7 linked regions of the Homo sapiens genome follow. The protein of the gene in region 1 purifies or fractionates together with the protein of each later gene. This does not show direct contact. Each region holds a gene or a part of one and is shown in the gene's direction. Other genes may lie near its edges. The genes, in order: LETM2, PKN2, MORC2, LMAN1, PPT1, TMTC3 and NUCB1.

Evidence for each region.
Region 2: the proteins of LETM2 (region 1) and PKN2 purify together in Homo sapiens (affinity purification with mass spectrometry; one large-scale study listed by BioGRID and IntAct). This does not show direct contact.
Region 3: the proteins of LETM2 (region 1) and MORC2 purify together in Homo sapiens (affinity purification with mass spectrometry; one large-scale study listed by BioGRID and IntAct). This does not show direct contact.
Region 4: the proteins of LETM2 (region 1) and LMAN1 purify together in Homo sapiens (affinity purification with mass spectrometry; one large-scale study listed by BioGRID and IntAct). This does not show direct contact.
Region 5: the proteins of LETM2 (region 1) and PPT1 purify together in Homo sapiens (affinity purification with mass spectrometry; one large-scale study listed by BioGRID and IntAct). This does not show direct contact.
Region 6: the proteins of LETM2 (region 1) and TMTC3 purify together in Homo sapiens (affinity purification with mass spectrometry; one large-scale study listed by BioGRID and IntAct). This does not show direct contact.
Region 7: the proteins of LETM2 (region 1) and NUCB1 purify together in Homo sapiens (affinity purification with mass spectrometry; one large-scale study listed by BioGRID and IntAct). This does not show direct contact.

Annotation. Positions count from the first base shown.
Region 1 is NC_000008.11:38,385,248-38,389,275, forward strand, and holds the start of LETM2 (LETM1 domain-containing protein LETM2, mitochondrial), read left to right. Parts: upstream 1-1,228; 5' UTR 1,229-1,321; intron 1,322-1,894; exon of another isoform or gene 1,895-2,259; intron 2,260-2,702; 5' UTR 2,703-2,736; coding exon 2,737-2,783; intron 2,784-4,028.
Region 2 is NC_000001.11:88,771,273-88,774,772, forward strand, and holds part of PKN2 (serine/threonine-protein kinase N2), read left to right. Parts: intron 1-148; coding exon 149-294; intron 295-390; coding exon 391-607; intron 608-3,500. UniProt on the Homo sapiens protein: PKC-related serine/threonine-protein kinase and Rho/Rac effector protein that participates in specific signal transduction responses in the cell.
Region 3 is NC_000022.11:30,941,275-30,944,774, reverse strand, and holds part of MORC2 (ATPase MORC2), read left to right. Parts: intron 1-2,503; coding exon 2,504-2,663; intron 2,664-2,772; coding exon 2,773-2,884; intron 2,885-3,216; coding exon 3,217-3,342; intron 3,343-3,500. UniProt on the Homo sapiens protein: Essential for epigenetic silencing by the HUSH (human silencing hub) complex. Recruited by HUSH to target site in heterochromatin, the ATPase activity and homodimerization are critical for HUSH-mediated silencing.
Region 4 is NC_000018.10:59,349,266-59,352,765, reverse strand, and holds part of LMAN1 (protein ERGIC-53 precursor), read left to right. Parts: intron 1-3,500. UniProt on the Homo sapiens protein: Mannose-specific lectin. May recognize sugar residues of glycoproteins, glycolipids, or glycosylphosphatidyl inositol anchors and may be involved in the sorting or recycling of proteins, lipids, or both.
Region 5 is NC_000001.11:40,073,253-40,076,752, reverse strand, and holds part of PPT1 (palmitoyl-protein thioesterase 1 isoform 1 precursor), read left to right. Parts: intron 1-2,569; coding exon 2,570-2,692; 3' UTR 2,693-3,500. UniProt on the Homo sapiens protein: Has thioesterase activity against fatty acid thioesters with 14 -18 carbons, including palmitoyl-CoA, S-palmitoyl-N-acetylcysteamine, and palmitoylated proteins. In contrast to PPT2, PPT1 can hydrolyze palmitoylated proteins and palmitoylcysteine.
Region 6 is NC_000012.12:88,166,307-88,169,806, forward strand, and holds part of TMTC3 (protein O-mannosyl-transferase TMTC3), read left to right. Parts: intron 1-23; coding exon 24-276; intron 277-3,500. UniProt on the Homo sapiens protein: Transfers mannosyl residues to the hydroxyl group of serine or threonine residues.
Region 7 is NC_000019.10:48,903,312-48,906,811, forward strand, and holds part of NUCB1 (nucleobindin-1 precursor), read left to right. Parts: intron 1-1,035; coding exon 1,036-1,143; intron 1,144-2,441; coding exon 2,442-2,574; intron 2,575-3,500. UniProt on the Homo sapiens protein: Major calcium-binding protein of the Golgi which may have a role in calcium homeostasis. Acts as a non-receptor guanine nucleotide exchange factor which binds to and activates alpha subunits of guanine nucleotide-binding proteins (G proteins).

The DNA of each region.
Region 1 (4,028 bases):
ACTGACGTTTAATACCGCCATCTTCCATTCTTAAAAATGTGTAGCCCAGATGAGTAAAGTCTGTGGTCAGCTCACATGTCAGGAGACGTATTCTCCGTGAGAAAGCGATTCCTTGCTGTATGGTGGTCGAGTAGAGCCACTAAGAAAAAAAAAATTTTTTTTTGAGGTGGAATCTCGCTCTTGTCGCCCAGGCTGGAGTGCAGTGGCGCGATCTCGACTCACTGCAACCCCTGCCTCCCGGGTTCAAGCGATTCTCCTGCCTCAGCCTCCAGAGTAGCCGGAACTACAGGCGCACGCCACCATGCCCGGCTAATTTTTGTATTTTTTTTTAGTAGAGACAGGGTTTCACCATGTTGGCCAAGATGTTTTCTGTCTCCTGACCTTGTGATCCGCCCGCCTCGGCCTCCCAAAGTGCTGGGATCACAGGCGTGAGCCACCGCGCCCAGCCTAAATAAAAAAAATTTTTAACTCTTTCTTCTGGAGCCAGATAAAATGGATGGGAAAAGATAACTGGGGAATGAGAATATTTCTAGATGTTTCATTTTCCCAAGATGGCTCAGTTGGCCATCCTAGGAACTGAAGTGCCCTCAAACCTGCAGTGTCTGTCATTTCACAGCTACTATAACATACATTTTATATGCTGAGATTTCTATACAAATTATTAATCACAAACAACACTTGTTAAGGGACCATTGAGAAAGCAAATATTTTTAGTAGAATACAGATTTCCATATGAAGATTTCACAGTATTCCAGCCTCTGGAGAGGAAGGGAGAGGAATGCGCTCCTTCCGATTCCCGCCCTTTCTGCGACACCATCAAATCCTCTCAGCGCCCCTCTGGCAGTTCCGGATTTGCAGGGTCCGAGGGAGAATACATCAAAGTGATGTCATTCATGACTCCGAAATGGTTACCATGGCGACTATCAGACATATTAAGCTGTCAGGGAAAGAGCCTGTTTAATCCAGTCTTCAATCACGGGTTTCCTCGGGCGTTAGCCACTGCCTGCGGAGTGTGGACTGGCAGAAAAACGTCACCTTCGGGCCCCCCAGCACCAACGCGCCTTAAACCAAGCCCCACAAAGAAGTCACTTCGGCGATGTAAACGCGACTTTGCGGCTTCCTGGGCTGCTAAGGTGAAGGACGCCCGCCCTCCCCAGAACTTGAGAGCTTATTGGTTGGCGATGTCGTCACTCAGAGTGACGTCAGGGGCGAGGAAAGAGGCGGAACCGTAGAGACTTGGCTTCGGGCCCTTCTAGCTTGGGGGTCCCGGGAAGGAGCTGGGAGGACCTAGGCGGCCGTTCCGCGGAGCCCGGCCGAGGAGGTAGGGGTGGGCAGGCCCAGCCCTCAGGCCGCGACCTGGTGGGCCGCGCTGCCTTTTTTTCCTCCGGATCCCGCTCGGTCCGCATCCTGCTCCTCTCATCAGAGCATGATCCAGGCTTCTGACAGCTTCCAGTTCCCACCGCGCTCTCCTCCACCCACGACCTCATCCCCGCCAGTTCCCCAGCACAGCGCGAACTCTGAAGCTCGGCCTCTCCTCCCCCTTCCCCGCACAGCGCGCTCCGTCCTTTTTTCCGTCCCAGGCCCTGCTTCTTTCTCCTCGGCTTCATTTCCAACAACCCCGATCATCCACGAGGGTCGTCGTTCCCGTGCCTGTCCCACCTCCGCACCAGAAAACCAAAGCATATCCCCCAGACCCCGCCGCATGCAGGCCGCGCACACATCAGGCGCGCCGAAGCCGCCGGGCGAGGAAGCCGAGGGCGCGTTTTGCTCCCGTGTGGTGATGGGCAAAGCCGAGGGAGCCCGGGAGCAGCGGGCGTGGGGCGGCGCCAATGCGAGTGCGAGTGGTGTCCGCCGCCCGGGAGCGCCCGGGCCCGAGCGGATTAACCGCCGCCTCAGGTGTCGTCTCCTGCCCGCGAAACACCACCCACCGTTAGTGTGGGTCCACAGGTTTCGAGCCCCTGTTGAAAATGTCAGCTCTGTGGCTAAGGTTTCTATTCAGGAGAGCTCCTGGAACTCTTTTCCCAACCACAAGAGAGCAAAGCTGCCATTGGGAATGTCAGCTCTTCTGCCGTTCCTCGCGGCCCTTAGCAGAAAAGCGCCCCTGGATGGAGATGGGTTTTGGTGAAGGTTATTTACAGGTTCAAAGCTCAGTTTGGGCTCTGGAGAATCAGTAGCAAGGGAAACAGTTTTACCTCCACTTGAGCGATTAGTAGGTTGCATGTCTACCTTCATCCACTGCTACATAAATTAGATTAGTGGGTACGTCCAATATTCAGGGTTTGGGACAACTTGCCTAAATATAGAACAATGCTAACTGAAAAGAAATTCAGAATATTCACTTTCTACCTATATTTTAAGGCTACAGATAGATATGTATTGCTCTACTTTTAAGTACTTGGCAATCATTGAAGTTGCATTACTAGATACTATTGACCAGAAATCAAAATGTCTCTGAAGATTGTACCATCTTCATGAGCATCATCATCTTAGAGATCATTACCGTTTGTTGGAATCTCAAAGTACCATTCTCAAGTCCAGAGCTACGAAAATATCTGATTGTTGGAAATGAGCTTGAAGGAGGTTTTGTACCTTAACTATGCAAATGTTCTACCTTTGCAATAGTTAAAAACACTAAAATCCTGATGTCTTTTAATTGATGTATTTTTAAACTACTAAATTGTTTACTTACTCCTTTTGCCTAGGTCCCTATGTTAACTACTTGAGACAAAAATAAATATGGCCTTCTACAGTTATAATTCAGTTCTGGCTATTGCTCGAACAAGGTAAGCATTGGAGTTACCCCCCAATATGAACGTAATTCTTCTTCTTCTTCTTTTTTTTTTTTTTTTCTGAGATGGAGTCGCACTCTGTCGCCCAGGCTGGAGTTCAATGGTGCAATCTCGGCTCACTGCAACCTCTGCCTCCCGGGTTCAAGCTACTCTCCTCCCTCAGCCTCCAAGTAACTGGGATTACAGGTGTTTGCCACCACCTCCGGCTAATCTTTGTATTTTCAGTAGAGACGAGGTTTCACCATGTTGGCCAGGCTGCTCTGGAACTCCTGACCTTAGGTGATCCGCCTGCCTTGGGCTCCCAAAGTGCTGGGATTACAGGCGTGAGTCACCTCGCCTGGCCTGAATTTCATCCTTCTAGATGGAAAGGATTGGCTTAGTACACAATTAAAAGTTTCTTGGAGGCTGGGTGCAGTGGCTCACACCTGTAATCCCAGCACTTTGGGAGGCCAAGGCGAGCGGATTGCCTGAGGTCAGGAGTTCAAGACCAGCCTGACCAACATGGTGAAACCCCGTCTCTACTAAAACTGCAAAAATTAGCCGGCATGGTGGCAGGTACCTATAATCCCAGCACTTGTGAGGCTGAGACAGGAGAATCGCTTGAACCTGGGAGGCGGAGGTTGCAGTGGGCCAAGACTGGGCCACTGCACTCCAGCTTGGGCAACAAGAGTAAAAATCCATCTCAAAAAAAAAAAAGAAAAGAAGATGTAGTTTTTTTTGTTTGTTTGTTTTTGTTTTCTTTTTTGGGACGGATTATCACTCTGTTGCCCAGGCTGGAGTGCAGTGGCATGATATCTTGGCTCACTGCAACCTCCAACTCCCAGGTTCAAGAGATTTTCCTGCCTCAGCCTCACAAGTAGCTGGGATTACAGGCATGCGCCGCCATGTCCCACTAATTTTTGTATTTTTAGTACAGATGGGGTTTCGCCATGTTGGCCAGGCTGGTCTTGAACTCCTGACCTCAGGTAATCCGCCAGCCTGGGCTTCCCAAAGTGCTGGGATTAAAGGCGTGAGCCACTGTGCCCAGCCAGAAGATGTACTGGTTTTAGAGTGACATCTCTGTAATTGATGAACATCACGTGAGGTCCTTAGATGTAAAGCGAGTAAAATGGCTGATGAACAGCCAGTCTTAGGGCATATTCGTGTCCCATTAGGGTCTGTTACCATTATTTATTTATTTATTTATTTATTTATTTTTGAGATGAAATCTCGCTCTATTGCCCAAGCTGGAGTGCAATG
Region 2 (3,500 bases), on another chromosome or scaffold:
CATATCAAATATTTTTATTTCAGTGTTTATTGATGTAAGGACTAAGTTATTGTAATGTTATAGGAATTCATTTCTTTTCATGATTTTAATCACTGCAAATTGGAAAGTCAGATAAATGGTGCAATTAAAATTTTTTTTTCCTTTCTAGCAAAACCTGTGATAAGTCCTCTTGAACTTCGGATGGAAGAATTAAGGCATCATTTTAGGATAGAGTTTGCAGTAGCAGAAGGTGCAAAGAATGTAATGAAATTACTTGGCTCAGGAAAAGTAACAGACAGAAAAGCACTTTCAGAAGTAATTTTAAATAAAAATTTTTATTTGGTTTAATAAATACATTATTCAAAGTATGTGATTATTTAAATGACAACAATTGTCTTTTCCCTGTGCAAGGCTCAAGCAAGATTTAATGAATCAAGTCAGAAGTTGGACCTTTTAAAGTATTCATTAGAGCAAAGATTAAACGAAGTCCCCAAGAATCATCCCAAAAGCAGGATTATTATTGAAGAACTTTCACTTGTTGCTGCATCACCAACACTAAGTCCACGTCAAAGTATGATATCTACGCAAAATCAATATAGTACACTATCCAAACCAGCAGCACTAACAGGTATGTAGTGTATAGCCATTGTTTTTTGTGTGTATTTTTGTCTATAACTGGTTCTGATTTAATAATTGAAAGAAAAACCTGTGCATAGATTTTTAAAATTATGATAAGATACACATAGAATAAAATTTGTTGTATTAACCATTTTAATTTTATTCAATTTGGAAGCATTTGCTATATTCACAATATTGTGTGACCATCACCACTACCTAGTTTCAAAGCATTTTCATCACCCCAAAAGGAAACGCATACCTGTTAAGCAGTCACTCCCCATTCCCCCTTCCTCCCAGCTGCTAGCAACTACTAATTGTCTGTCTCTACAGATTTGTCTATTCTAGATTTGTCATATGATAGAAATTATATAATTTGTGACCTTTTTTGCCTGGCTTCTTTTACTTAGCATATTGTTGTCAAGGTTCATTCATGTTGTAGTATGTATGAGTACTTCACTCACTTTTAATGTCTGAATAGTATTCCACTTGTGGGAATATTCTAAAATTCAAAACTTTTTGTGCACCCAACATGATGCTCAAAGGAAATTCTCATTGGAGCATTTTGGATTTGGGATTTCAGATTTCCAGATTAGGGATGCTTAACCAGTAAGTATAATATAATATAAACATTCCAAAATCTGAGATACTTCTGGTCCCAAGGATTTCAGATAAGGAATACTCAACCTATACTATATTTGATTGACCTATTTGTCAGAGCATATGAGTTCTTTTTACCTTTTGACTGTTGTGAGTAGACTGCTATGAACATTTACGTGCAGGTTTTTGCTTGAACATCTGTTTTCAATTTGGGGGTATATTCCTAGGAATATAATTGCTAGGTCATATGGTAGCTATATCTAAGATTTTGAGGAACTGTCAAACTGTTCTTCTCAGCATTTACATTATTTTATACTTCTAACAGTAATGTATAAAGTGGGTTTCAGTATCTCCAGATCCTCACCAACAGTTAATATTTTTTTTCATTCTTCTTTGATCGTGTTCTAATAGGTCCATTATTGGAAGTATGGTAATATATCTAACTATGTCTGTAGAACTGTCTGTATTTCTCCCTTCAGTTATGTAAATTTTTGTTTCCTATATTGTGGGCTGTTTTGCTAGGTTCATGTATGTTTACAATTTTTATATCTTCTAGACGGATTGACTCCTTTACCTTTACCTTAACTCCTTTATAATGTCCTTCTTTGTCTCCTATAACAATATTTAATTTAAAATCTGTTTTGTCTGATTTTATAACAGCTACCCCTACTTTGTTTTGGTTTTGTCTTTGGGTTCAAATGAGTCTCTTTTAGATTATATATTATTGTATTCTGTTTTATAAGATCCATTCTGTCAGTCTTTTTTTTTTTTAATTCATTTTTATTGAGACAGAGTCTCACTCTCATTGCAGCCTCCCACTCCCAGGTTCAAGCAATTCTTGTGCCTCAGCCTCCCGAGTAGCTGGGATTACAGGCATGTGCTACTGCACCTGGCTAGTTTTTGTATCTTTAGTAGAGACAGGGTTTCACCATGATGGCCATACTGGTGTCAAACTCCTGGCCTCAAGTGATCTGCATGTGCCACTGCACCTGGCTAATTTCTGTATTTTTAGTAGAGACAGGGTTTTACCATGATGGCCACACTGGTTTCAAACTCCTGGCCTCAAGTGATCTGCCTGCCTTGGGCTCCCAGAGTGCTGTGATTACTGGTGTGTGCCTCCACATCTGACCAGTGTTTGCTGTTTATTTAATAGTTTAAGACAGTTATCCAGATGAGGTTGCATGCACCTGTAGTCCCAGCTACTTGGGAGGCAGAGGCAGGAGAATTGCATGAGCCCAGGAGTTTGAGGCTACAGTGAGTCATGATTCCACCACTGCACTCCAGCCTGGGTGACACAGCAAGACTCCGCCTCTAAGAAAGAAAGAAAGAGAGAGAAACATTTAAAGTAATTACAGACAGGATGTAATAATCCTGGTGGTAACTACTGAGAGGTAGGTTAAATTTAATAGGTTTGTAGCACAGTCCCCCCACAAAACTGCCATCACTTCATAAGCAAGCAGCAAATTTAGAGTTTCCAAGGCTACATGCACTCCTGACCAACTGTCTACAGATTCCAGGATTTCTACTAGCATCTCAGCTCAGTAATTTGCAGGAACAAATCATAGAACTCAGGGAAGCACTATACTTAGGATTACGTTTTTATTATAAAGGATACAAATTAGGACCTTCATGGCTCACTGCAGCGAAAAGAAAATAAACATAAAGGGGGAGATCTGAGAGGATCTCAAACACAAACCTTATGTGTCCTTAGGATATATCACCCTCCTAACACATCAATGTCTGTCACCAACCAGGAAGTTCACTTGAGCATTGGGTGTGCAGAATTTTCATTGGGGCTTTGTTAACATAGGTGTGATTGAGTGAATCATTGGCCACATGATTGAATTCAATCTCCAGCCTTGTGCCCCTCCCTAGGTCAGGAGGTCAGACTGATAATGTGGCTCAAAGCCTCAACCTCCTGAAGATATGATCATTCTTTCTGGCATGGCCAGCCCCCATCCTGAAACTGTCTAGAGGCCCACCATGAGTCACCTTACCAGGTGTGGTCTAAGGTATCCACTATGAATAACAAAGGCACGCCTATCACTGGGGGAAATTCCAAAGGTTTAGACTTAGAGGCTGTCTTCCAGAAACCAGGGACAAAAACCAGCCAAATTATATACAACAAAAGGGCTTATTTCTGTCATTTTGCGGGTTTTTTTTTTTATGCAAGTGTTTATCTTTTTTTCTCTGAGTTCTAGTACTACCTTCTTTTGGTTTTGATTGAATTTTTCTACTCTGTTTTTATTTACTTATTTTTGAGACAGGATCTCTCTTTGTTGCCCAGGCTGGAGTACAGTGGTATG
Region 3 (3,500 bases), on another chromosome or scaffold:
ATTTGGTGATTGATTGATTAGTAGAAGGCGAAAGCGAAGCAGGGGAGTCATGGATGACTCATAGGTTCTGCTGTGGCAGTTGGGGAGTGGGGTCTCTGGAATTGGGAAGAATGAAGAGGGGAAGTATGGAGGGGAAGAGTGTAAGTTTCTTCTGGACATGCAAAGTGCAGTCTGGGTCTGGCATTTGGGGGAAGTCTGGGGGCTTCAGCATTCTTGGTAGCAAACGAGGTCACCTAATGGAGAGAATAGAGTGAGAAGAGGATCTGGGACCTAGAGCATGTCAATATCTAAAGGTCGGGGAGAGGAGAAGGGGGCCAGAGGGACAAAGGGGTAGCCAGAAAGGTAGGAAGAAAACTGGGCAAGTGTACCATTGAACTAAAGGAGAAGTGTTCCTGAGGGGAGGGATGGGGTGCCCATGGGAGTGAAAGCCAATGTTTAAAGTGATGCCATTGTCACCTGGGATGGCTGTGAAGAATGGGAGGCGTAGTGAGGTACAGGTTTATAGAACACAAATGGAACTCGGTTCCCGTGGTGGAGAGGCTAGGTTGAGATTTTTTCCTTACTTGGTGCTAGAAGGTCGCTATTTTGGATTGTACTCTAGTGCAAACTCAGCCAAGATTTCAAAATAAGATCATTTTCAGTTGAGGAGGAATGTGTCCAGACCAGCCCTTGGGTTGAATAGTTGCAGCACAAAGCTTCTTAGAAACCAGCAAAATGGGCCGGGCCTGGTGGCTCACGCCTATAATCCCAGCACTTTGGGAGGCTGAGGCGGGCAGATCATGTGGTCAAGACCATCCTGACCAATATGGTGAAACCCCGTCTCTACTAAAAATAGAAAAATTAGCTGGGCATGGCAGTGTACGCCTAGTCCCAGCTACTTGAGAGGCTGAGGCAGGAGAATCACTTGAACCCAGGAGGCGGAGGTTGCAGTGAGCCGAGATCGTGCCATTGGTGGAGGTTGCATTGAGCTGAGATCATGCCATCGCACTCCAGCCTGGGCAACAAGAGCAAGACTCCGTCTCAAAAAAAATAAAATAAAAAAACCCAGCAAAATGTCTCAGAACTCTTAACAGTTTGTCACCCCAGCACTTGTTAAGATTACAGAGTCCCTTTTTCCTAAGGGTTTGAACCCCTGAGGTGCTTAGCCTGGCCTGCTCTGCAGAGGAAATCCTTCAGGCAGCCATCTGCAGGGCTCTGCAAGGGCTGCGGCCTCATAACCACCGAGGGAGGAGCCTCTGGGGAAGTGGCATATGAGGTTGGGTTTTTGAAGAAAGAGTAGGATTTTTTTAAAACATCACTTAGACATTATTTAAATTAAATTTCACATAAATGGAAGAGTGTATTGAAATATTTATGCAGTTCAGAGGACAATTTTAAAGGCAACACCTGTGTTGCCACCATCACAGACTGATGTTAGAAGTGTCCTGTGTGCCCTCATCAGTCATATTTCTTCTTGTGCCCCCGAAGGAACTGCCTTCAGGTAACTTTTGTGATAATGATTTCCTTCTTTTTCACTATAGTTTGTCACCCTTGTATGCATTTTTAAATAATAGTTTAGTTTTGCCTATTTGTGAATTTTTTAGAAATGGACTCTTACTGTAGGTATTTTTTGTATCCTATTTCATATAACACTGTGTTTATGTTGTTCATCCATGTTGATGCTAGTAGTGGTTAGTTCATTTGTATCACTATATAGTGTTCCATTGTACAGTTTAATTTGGCCACTCTAGAATGGATATTTGGGTTATTTTTATTTATTTATTTATTTTTGAGATGGAGTCTTGCTCTGTTGCCCAGGCTGGAGTGCAGTGGCACGATCTCAGCTCACTGCAACCTCCGCCTCCCAGATTCAAGCAATTCTCCTGTCTCAGCCTCCTGAGTAGCTGGGGCTACAGACGCACGCTGCCACGCCCGGCTAATTTTTTGTATTTTAGTGGAGACCGGGATTCACCATGTTGCCCAGACTGGTCTCAAACTCCTGAGCTCAGGCAGTCCATCCACCTCAGCCTCCCAAAGTGCTGGGATTACAGACATGAGCCACTGCACCAGGCCTGGGTTATTTTTGTACATGTTTACTGGTACATATGTACAAAAGTTTCTCCTAGGGTATGTACCTAGGAGTGGAATTGCTGAGTTTTAGGTTATGTTATGTGTATTTACTGATTCACTAGATAATTGCAAATATATTTTCCCTAGTGGTAAGAGTAGAATTTTTACCAAATTAAGAAAATGACCAGGGACGTCCCAAGCAGGGAACTTCTCATGCAGAGACCCTAAGCACATAAACCAACATCTCCTGAAGGAAGTAGTCTTGTGTGGCTGAGTCTTGGGAAGAGGCAGAAGCCCTGAAGCTCACAGAGCCTCTGGTGCCAGGCTGTGGAGCTTGGGCCTCACCTACAGGGCAGTGTGGAGCTGCTGTGGGGAGGGACAAGAGAGATGCACATTTGGGAGGAAGGCTGTTCTGGGGCTTCCCTTAAAGTGCCTGCTCATGTTTACTCCACAGGTGATAGTCCCACTGCCCACCTGGAATGCTCGGACCCGGGAACCTGTCACAGACAATGTAGAGAAATTTGCCATTGAGACAGAACTCATCTATAAGTACTCTCCATTCCGCACTGAGGAGGAAGTGATGACCCAGTTTATGAAGATTCCTGGGGACAGCGGTAAGTAGGCTTTGAGCCTGTAGCCCCTAGAATCTGGGAGCTCCAGAATCACAAGTAGTGTGGGGGTGGGCCGGGGGATCTGGCAGGACAAAAGATTTCTGTTTCTCAGGAACATTGGTGATCATCTTCAATCTCAAACTCATGGATAATGGAGAGCCAGAACTAGACATAATCTCAAATCCAAGAGATATCCAGATGGCAGAGACGTCCCCAGAGGGCACGTGAGTGTGGCTGGGAAGGGAGGGAGGCCCTGGAACTGGCGTTTGTGCTCTCAGGAGATGGCTTCAGGGAAAGAGGGGAGAGCACATTCATTGCCCAGTGTTCTGTGGTAGGGTAGTATGTAGGGCCAGCTCAGTTGCCTGTGGGGTGCCTGTGCTGAGGACGTGAGAGGGGCGGGATGTGGTGCTCACACTAAGGGAGCACCAGTTCAGGGCAGCAGCAGAAGTCAGTACCTAACATGGAAAGGTGGAGAGCCTGCAGAGAGGATGTTGTGCCCTTGGTCAGGCCTGTTGTGGAGCAGGTGACAGCACTTCTCTGTTTTTGCCCTCTCCAGGAAGCCAGAGCGGCGCTCGTTCCGTGCCTATGCCGCTGTGCTCTATATTGATCCCCGGATGAGGATCTTCATCCATGGGCACAAGGTGCAGACCAAGAGGCTCTCCTGCTGCCTGTACAAGCCCAGGTAGGGGCCAGTGCCCCTTGGCCTGCTGTCTCCCATGGGTCGAGGATGTGGCCGCGTTTCTCTGGGGCATTGTTAGAGGGATGCTGTATAAGAGGCTCTGGCAGTGCTGACTACGTTTGGGACTTTAAGTTGCCTGTGATTGGTCACAGGGTCAGTTC
Region 4 (3,500 bases), on another chromosome or scaffold:
AAGCGGTCCTGTGGTTAGAATCCTGTAACTGCCAGGTGGAGGTGGGGAAGGGCAGGAACATTTTCTCAGAGTTGAGCTGTGCCCTACAGGGAGATCAGGAAGTTCCTGGGAGTTGGGGGAAGAGGGTGTGTGTGTGTGCGAGTGAGTGGGTGTACTCCAAGCACAGAAAGCAGGCATAGGCCCTTGAGAGAGCTTGAAATATTTTGGAAAGGCATGTAGTTTGGTGTGGCTGGGAGATAGAAGAGATCAGTGAGCAGTGAGGTTGAAAGGGCAGTAACAGGCCTTGCACAGCTTCCTGTAGTTTAACCCATAAGAAGCTTTTAAAAATGTTTAAAGGGTTTTAAGCAGGAAGTGAAATTATCAGATTTGCAATTTAGAAAGATGACTTAGGTCCCAGTATTCTTAGTACCAGTTTTCTTGGGGTTAGGGGTGAACACAGTTGTTGAGTCAAGGAGAGTTCCTGAATATAGCCAATTGGACAGCTAATTGGTACTATTTACTAGCAAAGAAGCAGCACATTTGTTTGTGTTTTATCTGTTTGGGGGAGGAATGGGAAATCAGAGGGTTGGTAATGAGTTTAGTTGTAGGTAAATTGAGGTTAGCATAACATATAGGTGGAGATATCTAACTGGCAGTTATGATAACTAAGATCACTATGCATTGTAAACTTTGCTTTTTAAAGATGCCATTAATACCTGGTTATATAATACTTAAAAGTAAAAAAAATAGTGTATGAATTTTTCTTTCACCTAAATCATGAGCTAGACTTACACTCCTGGGTCTAAATCTCTGAGAAAGTTAGTTCTGTGGAAAACTGTATTGGCTTAGTCTTAATTCCAAGCTAATTTAGAGATCTTAGAATAGAGCAAGTGTCCAATGTATTATAATTAGCTTGGGTTTGAATTCCACTATAATTATTCACCCTGTACAGTTTCATTAGAGTCATCAGTAAGTCTTGCTTACCTGCATGTAGCAAAGCCCAGACATCAAGCATGGTGGGTGCAGACTGTCCGTGTGACCCAACACCGTGAGGCTGTGAGCCCTGGCAGCACTCCAAAACAATAGCCTTGCAAAACGTACTCCCCAGAAAGGGTTCCACAATTGATGAGATTGGTCACTACTCTGCATATTAGCACATTAAAGATTTCTTTATGAAGGATCCTTTATAAAGAAAGGATAAATAAACCTTTATTAGACCTCACATTTCCCAGACTGACTTAACTATGGAATTTTTTTTCACCTAATGTCTATGAGTGATCATGGAGCTAGTGTTTTCAGGTACACGTTTTGAAGAGACTGGCTGGACACGTGACTGCTACTTATTGGTTTTCACCTCTCTGTACATCTCAGTCTGGTAATAATTCCTTTTCTTTCTACTTGTTAAAGTCATACTTAGCTTTGAGCACACAAATTCAGATCCCTTTTCTATCAGATTTCCTAAACAGCTCATAATGATCTGTCTCTCCTAAACTCTTAGAGTATTTTTTTTTCTCTAATGCTTATTTGGCCTTGAGATATGTTGTACTGATTTGCTTATTAACTATATGTATATCTCTTCTTATCAATATGATTGTAAACTTCTCACAATAGGCATATCCTGTATTTCTCCTAGTTCCTAATATTGTGCCAATGTGAAGTGCTCAAGAAGTATTTATTTTCATGAGTACTTGCACCCTAGCTTGTCCCAGTTGTTTCCACATTGGAGGGAAAAACAAAGTAAGAGGAGGTTGAAAGCAATAAGTGCTGTTGGTGGGGGAAACACAGCCAAAGCAAGAGATCTTAAATATTGCAAGTGTAGTCTTTAACAATGGTTTGAAACCATAAGGTGAATAAGGAAGGTTATTGATGATCTCATAAAGAAGTAATAATCAGTGGACAGTTTGTACCTAGGCTTTCAGTTACAGTCCTTCCTAACATTCCTGCTAACTCACAGTACAATGAAATGTGTTACGTCCTTTAAAAAAAAATTGGGGCCGGGCGCGGTGGCTCACACATGTAATCCTAGCACTTTAGGAGGCCGAGGCGGGCGGATCACGAGGTCAGGAGATCAAGACCATCCTGGCTCACACGGTGAAACCCCGCCTCTACTAAAAATACAAAAAAATTAGCCAGGCTTTGTGGCGGGAGCCTGTAGTCTCCGCTACTCGGGAGGCTGAGGCAGGAGAATGGCGTGAACCCTGGAGGCAGAGTTTGCAGTGAGCCGAGATCACACCACTGCACTCCAGCCTGGGCGACAGAGCGAGACCCTGTCTCAAAAAATAAATAAATAAATAAAAATAATTGGAACTAGACAATGAAGACTCATGCTGGATTTTCAGTTTGTTAGAATTCAAGGAAAAAAATACTGAACAATTGGAGGATTTTAGTATTGTAATTTGAATGTAATAATCTACAGTCTTTTTAAGACTCAAAGGCAAATAACTTCCTGATTGTTGATTCTAATTTAAAAGGCTCTGTGGAGGAGGACCAGTTGTAAATGATGTAAAATGAAATAGGAATATTACTAATCACAGGAAACATATTAATATGAACCAAATGCTAAATGATCTTTTAAAATTAATTATTTTAAACTAATTTTTAGTTCACATGTTTCCATTCTACAGTATATAGAGAGTAACTCTTCATATTGACAGATTTTATTCTCTTGCTGAAAATTTGGACAGAATACCAGAACATTTTGCCTGTGTGACTGAATCTTAAGTCTCTGACAAAATTTTGACTCTAGAAGTAATGACTCAAGTTCCCTTACTCTGGTGCCTTGGGCCTTCTCCTGCAACCACCCTGAACCTCAGTGACTGTTGTTTAGGGTGGGACTCGTGAGAGGATTATTAGAAATGAAATGTATTGAAGAGGCTGAACCACTGCTTGACTGGGATAATGAGAAAAGCATTCATGTGTCAGGTGGATTCCTGTGCTTGCCTAGGATTCTAAGATTCTGTTAAGAAATTTAGGATCATTCCTTCAAATATACATTTTGCAAAGTAGAAACGTACATCTTTTTAGTTTTTTCCTTCTCTGCCTTGTCAGTATGACTTCTGTCACTTTTGTTCTCTGCTAACCTGTGACAGTCCAGATACCTCACTAATTTAATTAAGAGGAGCTCACTACTTGTTGAGACAATCTGTTTAATTCTCAACCAGCTGCAGATAAAATTGTAAATTTAACCTCTTGGTTTTAGCTGTCACTGGGATCTGAGAACAAGTCTGATCCCTCTGCTGCATGAACCATTCCAAGGGAGTAATGATGACTCCCTAGGTCTTCTTGAGAGAAGGCAAACCATATTCCATTTTAGAAAGGTTTTCATAGAAAGTTATCAGATTTTTCTCTCTTTAAACTTTTGACACATAGTGGGGCAAAACTCATTTTTTTAAGTAAAATATATTGTATATTGACACCAAGTAGGAAACGTTATTTAAAATTACTCTTTATAATAATGAAACAAAACTGAATAGTAGTCATAAAATGGATCGATTGAAATTTATTTTCTAATGTCTTTTGCA
Region 5 (3,500 bases), on another chromosome or scaffold:
TCCTTTACACCTCAGAGCACTAGGTACTCCTGAAACACCTGACTCATGTCCAATATGGGTGAAGCTTGTTAGGCTCTTGATTATGTGCTCTAGCTTATTAGGCACTGGGTTACAAAAATCCACTACATCCTGAAACCTTATGGTTTCCAAACAACAAGAGAAACCTCATGTCTGATTCCCTTCTTTTGATAAAAAGGTTTTAAAACTAGCTGCCTTGGCTGAGGTACAGTCTGCTACAAATCCAGGAAGCCTCCATGCATGATGAGGGGCATTCCTTTTTTTTTCTTTGAGACGGGGTCTCGCTCTGTCACCCAGGCTGGAGTGCAGTGGAGCAATCTTGGCTCACTGCAACCCCTGCCTCCCAGATTCAAGCAATTCTCCTGCCTCAGCCCCCTTAGTAGCTGGGATTACAGGTGTGTGCCATCACACCTGGCTAATTTTTGTATTTTTAGGAGAGATGGAGTTTCACCATGTTGGCCAGGCTGGTCTTGAACTCCTGACCTCAGGTGATCCACCCACCTCAGCCTCCCAAAGTGCTGGGATTACAGGCGTGAGCCAGTGCGCCTGGCCAAGGGACATTACTTTTAAACATTAATAGATGTGAAATCCTGTTTCTAAATTACGCACTGACAAGGGAGGCTCCTGCAGGAGGTTGAGTGGGACTAGAGTTTTGAATTTTGTTTAGCAGTAGGTCCTGTATCTTAAGCAGAAGTTGCAGTAATTTGCCACCTCCAGTTCTGGGGCCTTCTACACTTTAAGGATTTTTTTTTTTTTTTTTTTTTTTTTTTTTTTTTGAGACAGTCTTGCTTTGTCACCCAGGCTGGAGTGCAATGGTGTGATCTCAGCTCACTGCAGCCTCCACCTCCTGGGTTCAAGCGATTATCCTGCCTCAGCCTCACTAGTAGCTGGGATTACAGGCACACGCCACCATGCCTAATACTTTGTTTTGTTAGTAGAGACGGGGTTTCACCATGTTGGCCAGGCTGGTCTTCAACTCCTGACCTCAGGTGATCCACCTGCCTCAGCCTTCAAGAGTGCTGGGATTACAGGTGTGAGCCACCACGCCCAGCCCTAAGGATTTTATATTGGAGACAGACTCTCCAAAATGCTAAGTACTACATCTGAACCAATCACCGTCTACTAGAATTCCTCCATGTTATTTCAGAGGTCATTTGTCTCCTCTTGGCTTGGCTTTTCTTTTGCACTGGGTGCCTCAACTTGGGTGGTGAGGTAAAAAGGGAAGCTAGAATCTGATTTGAGAAAAAAAAAAAAAAAGGCTTGAGAAATTACAGCTAAGAACTTCCTTACTGTGAAAACTCAAAATGATGTTGGCCACGGCAGAAGCACCATTCTGGCACTGTCGTAACTGCTTATCTTCCCAACCAGAGGTTGTTCTCCAGCATCTAGGCTATGGGTAATGACATTTTCAACTCCAGAATATGAAAGTGTCCAGGGTTTGTTACCTAACGGTTGGATATGGTTTTTCTGTTTTGTTCTTTTGAGACAGTTTTGCTCATTGCCCAGGCTGGAGTGCAATGGCATGATCTCAGCTCACTGCAACCTCCGCCTCCCGGGTTCAAGCGAATTCTCCTGTCTCAGCCTCCCAAGTAGCTAGGATTACAGGTGCCCGCCACCATGCCCAGCTAATTTTTGTATTTTTAGTAGAGACAAAGTGTCATCATATTGGTCAGGCTGGTCTTGAACTCCTGACCACAGGTGATCCGCCTGCCTTGGCCATCCAAAGTGCTGGGATTATAGGCGTGAGCCACCGCGCCTGTCCTGGGTTGGATGTTTTTTAAGTTACCTAGCTAATGTTCTGTCTTTGGCTCAGTCCCACTTACCTATGGCATTCTGAGGCAGTGTCGTCTATGGCTTGCCCACCTATAGGTAGTCCTCTGACTCTGAGCTTTTCAAAAATCAGAATCTAGAACACTGTATAGAGCAATCTCAATTGCATATCTATTTTTAATACTTAGAAAAAACTGGCCGGGTGTGGTGGCTCACGCCTGTAATCCCAGCACTTTGGGAGGCCGAGGCACGTGGATCACCTGAGGTCAGGAGATCAAGACCATCCTAGCTAACACAGTGAAACCCCATCTCTACTAAAAATACAAGAAATTACCCAGGCATGGTGGCATGCGCCTGTAATTCCAGCTACTCATGAGGCAGAGGCAGGAGAATCGCTTGAGCCAGAGAAGTGGAGGTTGCAGTGAGCCGAGATCGCACCACTGCACTCCAGCCTAAGCAACCGAGCAAGACTCCGTCTTGAAAGAAAGAAAGAGAAAGAGAGACAGAGAGAGAGAGAGGAAGAAGAAGAAGAAGCGGGGGGGACAGGAGGAGGGGGAGGAGAGAAGAAAGAAAAGAAAGGAAGAAAGAGAAAGAAAGAAAAAGAAAAAAGAGAAAGAAAAAGAAGTAGGAGATATTCTTTTTGGCATTTTTGAAAATACACCTCAATTTTAATACTCAGGACAAACTGCATTTTGAAAATATATCTCAAGTTAACGTACTTACCATTTTACTCCAAAACTTCATTAAGCTTTTTAATTAATTATGGCCTTTCCTTCTGCAGGACCGCCTGGGGCTAAAGGAAATGGACAATGCAGGACAGCTAGTGTTTCTGGCTACAGAAGGGGACCATCTTCAGTTGTCTGAAGAATGGTTTTATGCCCACATCATACCATTCCTTGGATGAAACCCGTATAGTTCACAATAGAGCTCAGGGAGCCCCTAACTCTTCCAAACCACATGGGAGACAGTTTCCTTCATGCCCAAGCCTGAGCTCAGATCCAGCTTGCAACTAATCCTTCTATCATCTAACATGCCCTACTTGGAAAGATCTAAGATCTGAATCTTATCCTTTGCCATCTTCTGTTACCATATGGTGTTGAATGCAAGTTTAATTACCATGGAGATTGTTTTACAAACTTTTGATGTGGTCAAGTTCAGTTTTAGAAAAGGGAGTCTGTTCCAGATCAGTGCCAGAACTGTGCCCAGGCCCAAAGGAGACAACTAACTAAAGTAGTGAGATAGATTCTAAGGGCAAACATTTTTCCAAGTCTTGCCATATTTCAAGCAAAGAGGTGCCCAGGCCTGAGGTACTCACATAAATGCTTTGTTTTGCTGGTGATTTAACCAGTGCTTGGAAAAATCTTGCTTGGCTATTTCTGCATCATTTCTTAAGGCTGCCTTCCTCTCTCAGTACGTTGCCCTCTGTGCTATCATCTTATCATCAATTATTAGACAAATCCCACTGGCCTACAGTCTTGCTTCTGCAGCACCCACTTTGTCTCCTCAGGTAGTGATGAATTAGTTGCTGTCACAAAAGGAGGGAAGTAGCACCCAAATTAAGTTGCTTAAGAGAGGAAATGTACATCTTGTATAACTTAGGGAGCGAAGAAAATGTAGGCGCGAAAGTGAAAAGTGAGGCAGCTAGTTCTTCCTATTCCATTCTCGACCAACCTGCCCTTTCTTAATATGACTAGTGGTCTTGATGCTAGAGT
Region 6 (3,500 bases), on another chromosome or scaffold:
CTTTTTTTTAATCCTTTATACAGGTTTGATAACCCAGCTGCTGTAAGCCCAACTCCTACAAGGCAACTAACTTTTAACTACCTCCTTCCTGTGAATGCTTGGTTGTTATTAAATCCTTCAGAGCTCTGCTGTGATTGGACCATGGGAACAATACCACTTATAGAGTCATTACTAGATATTCGAAATCTGGCCACATTTACTTTCTTTTGTTTTCTGGGGATGTTGGGAGTATTCAGTATCAGATACTCTGGTGATTCCTCCAAGACTGTTTTAATGGTAAGAAACTTTTCTTAACTTCCAAATGATGTTAACATTCAGTTGAATAAGTAAGAAACTACCTTTAATTCAGCAAAAGCATCTTTTTAGAAGCACTCCTTTCTTTGTTCAACGGCATCCCAATTTATAAACGTATTTGAGTTTATCCCAAAATTCTCAGTTAATTTGCAGGCATAATTTGACATATGTTCAGCACATAAAATATTTGTTACCTTTATCCAACTAGATTATACACTTTTTGAAGAAATTGATTATATTGTATATTATTTGTTTTCTTGGCACAGAGAAGAACATCATATAAGATATACAACTAGAAATATAGAGCTTTTCAGTTCTCATGAGCAAGGTGGTTTTTATTACTCCCTTAGATAGCTTTCACTATGTTCGGAGAACTCTGATTATTTGAACAGTTTTTTTTTTTTTTTTTTGGTGGTGGTTTTTCTGTACTGTTTTTCTTCTTATTTTCTTACCCTGTGTCACTTCATACTCATAAGAGTTATGTTTTCTCTCCCTTTTAATTATTGAAGACAGGCTGGGTGCGTTGGTTCTTGCCTGTAATCCCAGCACTTTGAGAGGCCAAGGCAGGTGGATCATTTGAGGCCAGGAGTTTGAGACCAGCCTGGTCAACCTGGTGAAACTCTCGTCTCTACTAAAAATACAAAAATTAGCTGGGTAGCTGGGTGTGGTAGTGGGTGCCTGTAATCCCAGCCACTCAGGAGGCGGAGGCACAAGAATCACTTGAACCAGGGAGGTGGAATTTGCAGTGAGCTGAGATTGCGCCACTGCACTCTAGTCTGGGCGACAGAGCAATACTCTTTCTCAAAAAAACAAAAATAAAAATAAAAGTTTATTGAAGACAATAGTACATTTTCTCAGGCATTTATTATATGTCAGAAAGTATGTTTAATGAATTGCAGATACATAATTTTTTGCTGTAGCTGCTAGATTGATTTATTCATTCAATAAAAACTTAGACTTTACCCTTTGTACAGTGCAGCATTTTAGGTGCTGAGGTTATGATAGTAAATACACAGTTCACGTTTCCAGAGAACTTACACAGTTCACGTTTCCAGAGAACTTACATTCTAGAGAAATTTGGATGTCTGAGATACAGAGTAGATTTAAAGATTGTGTTGTCTATTATCCTTGAACATGTTGAGTTTGCATTACTGTTGAAACATCCTGTTGGACATTTTGAACAGCACTTTATGTCTGGAGTTCATAGAAGATAGTTAAGTTACACATAGAAATCTTATCCATTAACATAGAGGTGGTAATTGAAACCAGGATGTAGATAAGGTGAAATGTAGATGAGGTTATAGAGCAGCCTTTCTCAACTGGGGTTTTGTCAATTCTGTCAAAGATGGTAGCTGTTAACATTCTAGATGCACAGAAGTTCACTCATACTCATAATGGAAGCCTTAGGGTATTTGGTCTTAATTCTCCCCAGAAAACAGTTGAGTGGGCTAAATACAGTGAAAAGAGAAGATACCTACTACTAGGTCTTGAGAAACTCCTATATTTAGATGTTGAAGAGAAGGATCCTGAATAGAAGACATATCGAATGAAGAGAAAAGTAGGAAAGTGTATTACAGACCAAATGGTTAACACTAACAGATGCTCTTGAGGGGGAAAGTGAGATCTAGAATCTGTTGGATTGGACTTCTTTTAGTCTGTAGGTACTTAAATGAAATTTGTTTATGTGCAGTGAGTGATTTGATGAGGAAGTGAAGAGAGCTAGTATAGACCTGTAGGAATAATTTAACTTTGACTGTTTCAAAGGATGGGATAAACTTGATTAATTCCTCCCTAAGGGAAGACTATGCTGGTCAGGCAATGGTTTCAAGTATAACAAACTGCTTATCTTATGTAGGGCCTGGGGAAGCATTGAGATCTGGCATTGGTAGACCTTCAGAGGTAGGAGGGAGCAATGTCAGGGAGAGACTGTTGATTGGTTGGCATATAGAAGCATTTTTATTGGCGTACTCAGCTACTCAGCTGACTTTTTTGAATGCGGATATCCCTGATGGGTTGGCTTGCAGGAACATATTTATTAAGCTGAAATGTTGATTGGTTAAGTGGTAGACTTAAGTTGATTAGTTAAGTGGGCTACTTGATACTATGGCAACAAAATCTTTTCCTAAGATCATGAGAACTTGTTTTGTACCTGAGGTATGTAACGAATAGGGAAGGTAGCTTAAAAAATGTATTGTTAAAGATGTTTAAGGCTGGAGAGACAAGAGCATGTTTAAATATAGATAGGAAGAATACAGTTGATTAGAAAGTGGTTAATAAATTAGAGAAGGGATAATTGTTAGTGAAGTTTATGAGGAGCAGGAGATAGGGAGCACAGGTTTGGCCTGAGATAGAAGAGACACCCCTTATGTTACAAGAAGAAATGAATGTGGATGTTGGTAGGTTTAGTAGCAGGAAATTAAAGAAATTCTTGTTTTATGGCTTCAGCTTTCATTGTAAATTAGGAAATGTAGTTGCCTGCTAAAACTGACATGGGTCAAAAATTTGAGAAAAGTAGTGAAGATTCAAAGCAGTCAAGAAGAGTGGAAGGAACTTTCCAGAGAAACCTAGAAATCCCAAACAGTCTTAAGGATAAATTTGAACTTGGTGCTCATGCTTTTATGACAGTATTAATCTGTTCAGCTTTGGGACTTTCTCTAGCAGTGCGTTGCCACTCTGGTAAATACAGACAAAAGAAATAAACGGTAGAATACATCTAAAGCTGGAGTTTTCCTAAAAGAAAGGTTAAAAAAAAAGGAGAGGTAGGGGAATTAAGGTTTCAGCAAATAAAATAATGGTGTATGTAATGTAAGCTGAATTTTAAATGTATATAAAAATGGAACAGCTGTGGCCTTAAGCATAACTCTATTTTCAGTATAGTCCTAATAAAGGTGCTATTTTTTTTATGGTGATGTTTTCTGAAGATCTCTGGAAGGGATAAGTAGAACAAAGGAGCACCTACCAGATACCATGTTAAGCACTTATTAGATAAGATGTCATATATATGTCAACAGCATAATGTAAGTTGTTATTAATCCCCATTTTATTTGTAAAGAACTAACTGGGTTCAATCGCTCATGCCTGTAATCCCAGTGCCTTGGGAGGCAGAAATGGGAAGATCACTGGAGGCCAGGAGTTTGGGACAAACCTGGGCAAGACAGTGAGATCCCACCTCTAAAAAAAATTTTTAAATTAGCCAGGCATGGTAG
Region 7 (3,500 bases), on another chromosome or scaffold:
GCCTGGCATATGATAGGGGCCTGGTGAATGTTTGTTGAATGAATGAATGCATGCATGGGCGGGTGGGTAGATGGATGGGCAGTTGGATGGATGGGCGGGTGGATGGATGGGTGGGTGGATGAGTGGATGGATGGATGGATGGGTGGTTGGATGGATGGGCGGGTGGATGGATGGGCGGGTGGATGGATGGGTGGGTGGATGAGTGGATGGATGGATGGGTGGGTGGATGGATCGATGGGTGGGTGGATGGATGGATGAGTGGATGGATGGGCGGGTGGATGGATGGGTGGGTGGATGAGTGGATGGATGGATGGACGGGTGGTTGGATGGATGGGCGGGTGGATGGATGGGTGGGTGGATGAGTGGATGGATGGATGGGTGGGTGGATGGATGGATGGGTGGGTGGATGGATGGATGAGTGGATGGATGGGCGGGTGGATGGATGGGTGGGTGGATGAGTGGATGGATGGATGGATAGATGGATGGATGGATGGATAGGTGGGTGGATGGATGGGCAGGTGGATGAGTGGATGGATGGATGGATGAGTGGATGGATGGATGGATGGATGGATGGGTGGGTGGATGGATGGATGGGTGGATGGATGGATGGATGGGTGGGTGGGTGGATGGATGGATGAGTGGATGGATGGGTGGATGGATGGATGGATGATGGGTGGATAGATGGGTGGGTAGGATGTATGTATGGATGGGTGGGTGGGATGTATGGATGGATGGGTGGGTGGATGCATGGATGAATGGGTGGATGCATGGATGGATGGATGGTTGGATGGATGGATAAAAGTATGATTCACAGCTTCCCAACAAGTCATGTCCACTCTGAGCACCCACTCTGGGCAGTATTGGGCTGGGTGTTCACTGATGTGATTTTCATTTCATCTTTGCTGCATATGTGGGAAAAGGTAAAAACTGAGTCCCTTGTCAGCTGCCCCAGGGAGCAGGCCATAGCAGTAACAGGAGTGAGGGTGGGGATGGGGATGGGAGCAGGGGCTGCTATGTCTGTCCTTGTTGCCTCAGGACACAGGCCTGTACTACCACCGGTACCTCCAGGAGGTCATCGATGTACTGGAGACGGATGGGCATTTCCGAGAGAAGCTGCAGGCTGCCAATGCGGAGGACATCAAGGTGCGGCTGGGGGAGTGGGGGCTGTGGGAGGGGTACGTGCTGGGAGGGCAGAGTTCAGGGGAGGACTGGTTTCTTTTTTTTTTTTTTTGAGACGGAGTCTTGCTCTGTCACCCAGGCTGGAGTGCGATGGTGCGATCTCAGCTCACTGCACCTCCACCCCGCAGGTTCAAGCAGTTCTCCTGCCTCAACCTCCCAAGTAGCTGGGATTACAGGCGTACACCACCATGCCTGACTAATTTTTGTATTTTTAGTAGAGACGGGGTTTCACCATGTTGGCCAGGCTGGTCTCGAACTCCTGACCTCGTGATCCTCCCATCTCGGCTTCCCAAAGTGTTGGGATTACAGGCATGAGCCACCATGCCTGACCATACTGGTTTCTTCAAAGGGGCCACATGGCTCCAGCTGTGCCTGTATTTGAAAATCACCAAAGTAAGACTCAGGGAGAAGTTGCTTCTTGGGGTCACAAGCTGGGAAGAGCTTTGGGGAACACAGAATACGTGTTTAGTGCAGAGTCCCGTGGGCAGGCTTTCAGTCGCAGCTCCGCCGCTTACCAGCTATGGGGCCTCCCCTCACCGTGCCTCAGTTTCCCCACCTGTAAAATGGGAGACATCATAGAACCTGCTGCACAGTTCGGATTTGGATTTTCCAAGGGAAGGATTTTGGGGTTTGGATTTTCCAAAGGAAGATGTGTAAAGGGTTTGGAAGAGCATGGTGACACTCCTTAGCAAGTGTTGTGGGAGGGCTGCGTCAACAGAATGCTCCTATGGTGCCTTCTACAGAGGAAGAATTCAAAATAAGGGAGGTGCTGGTGTCCCTTACATCACCATGAACTCCCATATCAGGCCTCTAGGAGCACCATCATTGTCCCCATTTCACTGAGTAGGACACTGAACCCTCGTATCAGGATCTGTCCTTCTCATGGACCTGGGTCTCACCACCATGCACGGCTAATTTTGTATTGTTTCTAGAGACAGGGACTTGCCATGTTGCCCAGGCTGATCTTGAGATCCTCCCACCTCAGCCTCCCAAAGTGCTGGGATTACAGGCGTGACCCACCGCACCTGGCCCCTAAACATGTGGCTTGATGAATGACAGGAGATGGGGCAGCACAGGTGGGCAGGGCCTTGAATGCCAGGCTGACGGGCTGGGAGCTGTCCTTCCTGGAGACTCTGAGGAGCTGGGGGACTATAAGCAGGGAAGGGGCAGTATAAGACTGGGGCATGAGAAAGCTTATAAGAAGCTTCCAGAGAAGACAGAGAGCAGGCCCCCAGGCTGACCAGGGTCTCCTCTCCTGTCAGAGCGGGAAGCTGAGCCGAGAGCTGGACTTTGTCAGCCACCACGTCCGCACCAAGCTGGATGAGCTCAAGCGACAGGAGGTGTCACGGCTGCGGATGCTGCTCAAGGCCAAGATGGACGCCGAGCAGGATCCCAGTGAGCAGGGGCAGGGCGGGAGGGACAGGCAGGGAGGGGTGGGGAAGGGTGGCCTCACTCCCGGCCTCCAGGTGGTTGTGTGCTAGGCAGGTGAGGCCTCCCTCCCCGCTGCGAAATGTGCTGAAATGTGCGTGGGAGATTGCCCCAGTGTTCCTCCCAGCATGATTTAATATTAACATTACAATGTTGTTTGTTTATATTCTGTTTCCATTTGTTGTTTTTAAAAATCTTTATCATGGGCTGGGCACAGTGGCCCACGGCTGTAATCCCAGTACTTTGGGAGGCTGAGGCAAGCAGGTCACCTGAGGTCGGGAATTGGAGACTATCTGGCCAACATGGTGAAACCCCATATCTGCTAAAAATACTAAATTAGCCGGGCATGGTGGTGCACGCCTGTAATCCTAGCTGCTCAGGAGGCTAAGGCAGGAGAATTGGTTGAACCCGGGAGGCGGAGGTTGTAGTGAGCCGAGATCGCACCATTGCACTCCAGCCTGGACAACAGAGTGAAACTCTGACTCAAAAAAAAAAAAAAAAAATTGTCATTTAAAATTCTGGTAGAGGCCGGGTGCAGTGGCTCACGCCTGCAATTCCAACACTTTTTGAGGCAGGAGAATCACTCGAGCCCAGAAGTTCAAAACCAGCCTGGGCAACATAGCAAGACCCCTGTCTCTATAAAAAATATTAAAAAATAAGCTGGGCATGGTAATGCATGCCTGTGGTCCCACCTCCTTAGGAAGCTGAGGTGGGAGGATCGTTGAGCCTGGGATGTCAAGGCTATAGTGAGCCATGACTGCGCCACTGTACTCCAGCCTGGGCGACAGAACAAGATCCCATCTCAAAAAAAAAAAGTTGAAAGAACTTCAAACTTTTAGAAAAGTTGTAAGAGTAGTACAGAAAACTCCCAAACACCCCTGACCTGGCTTCTC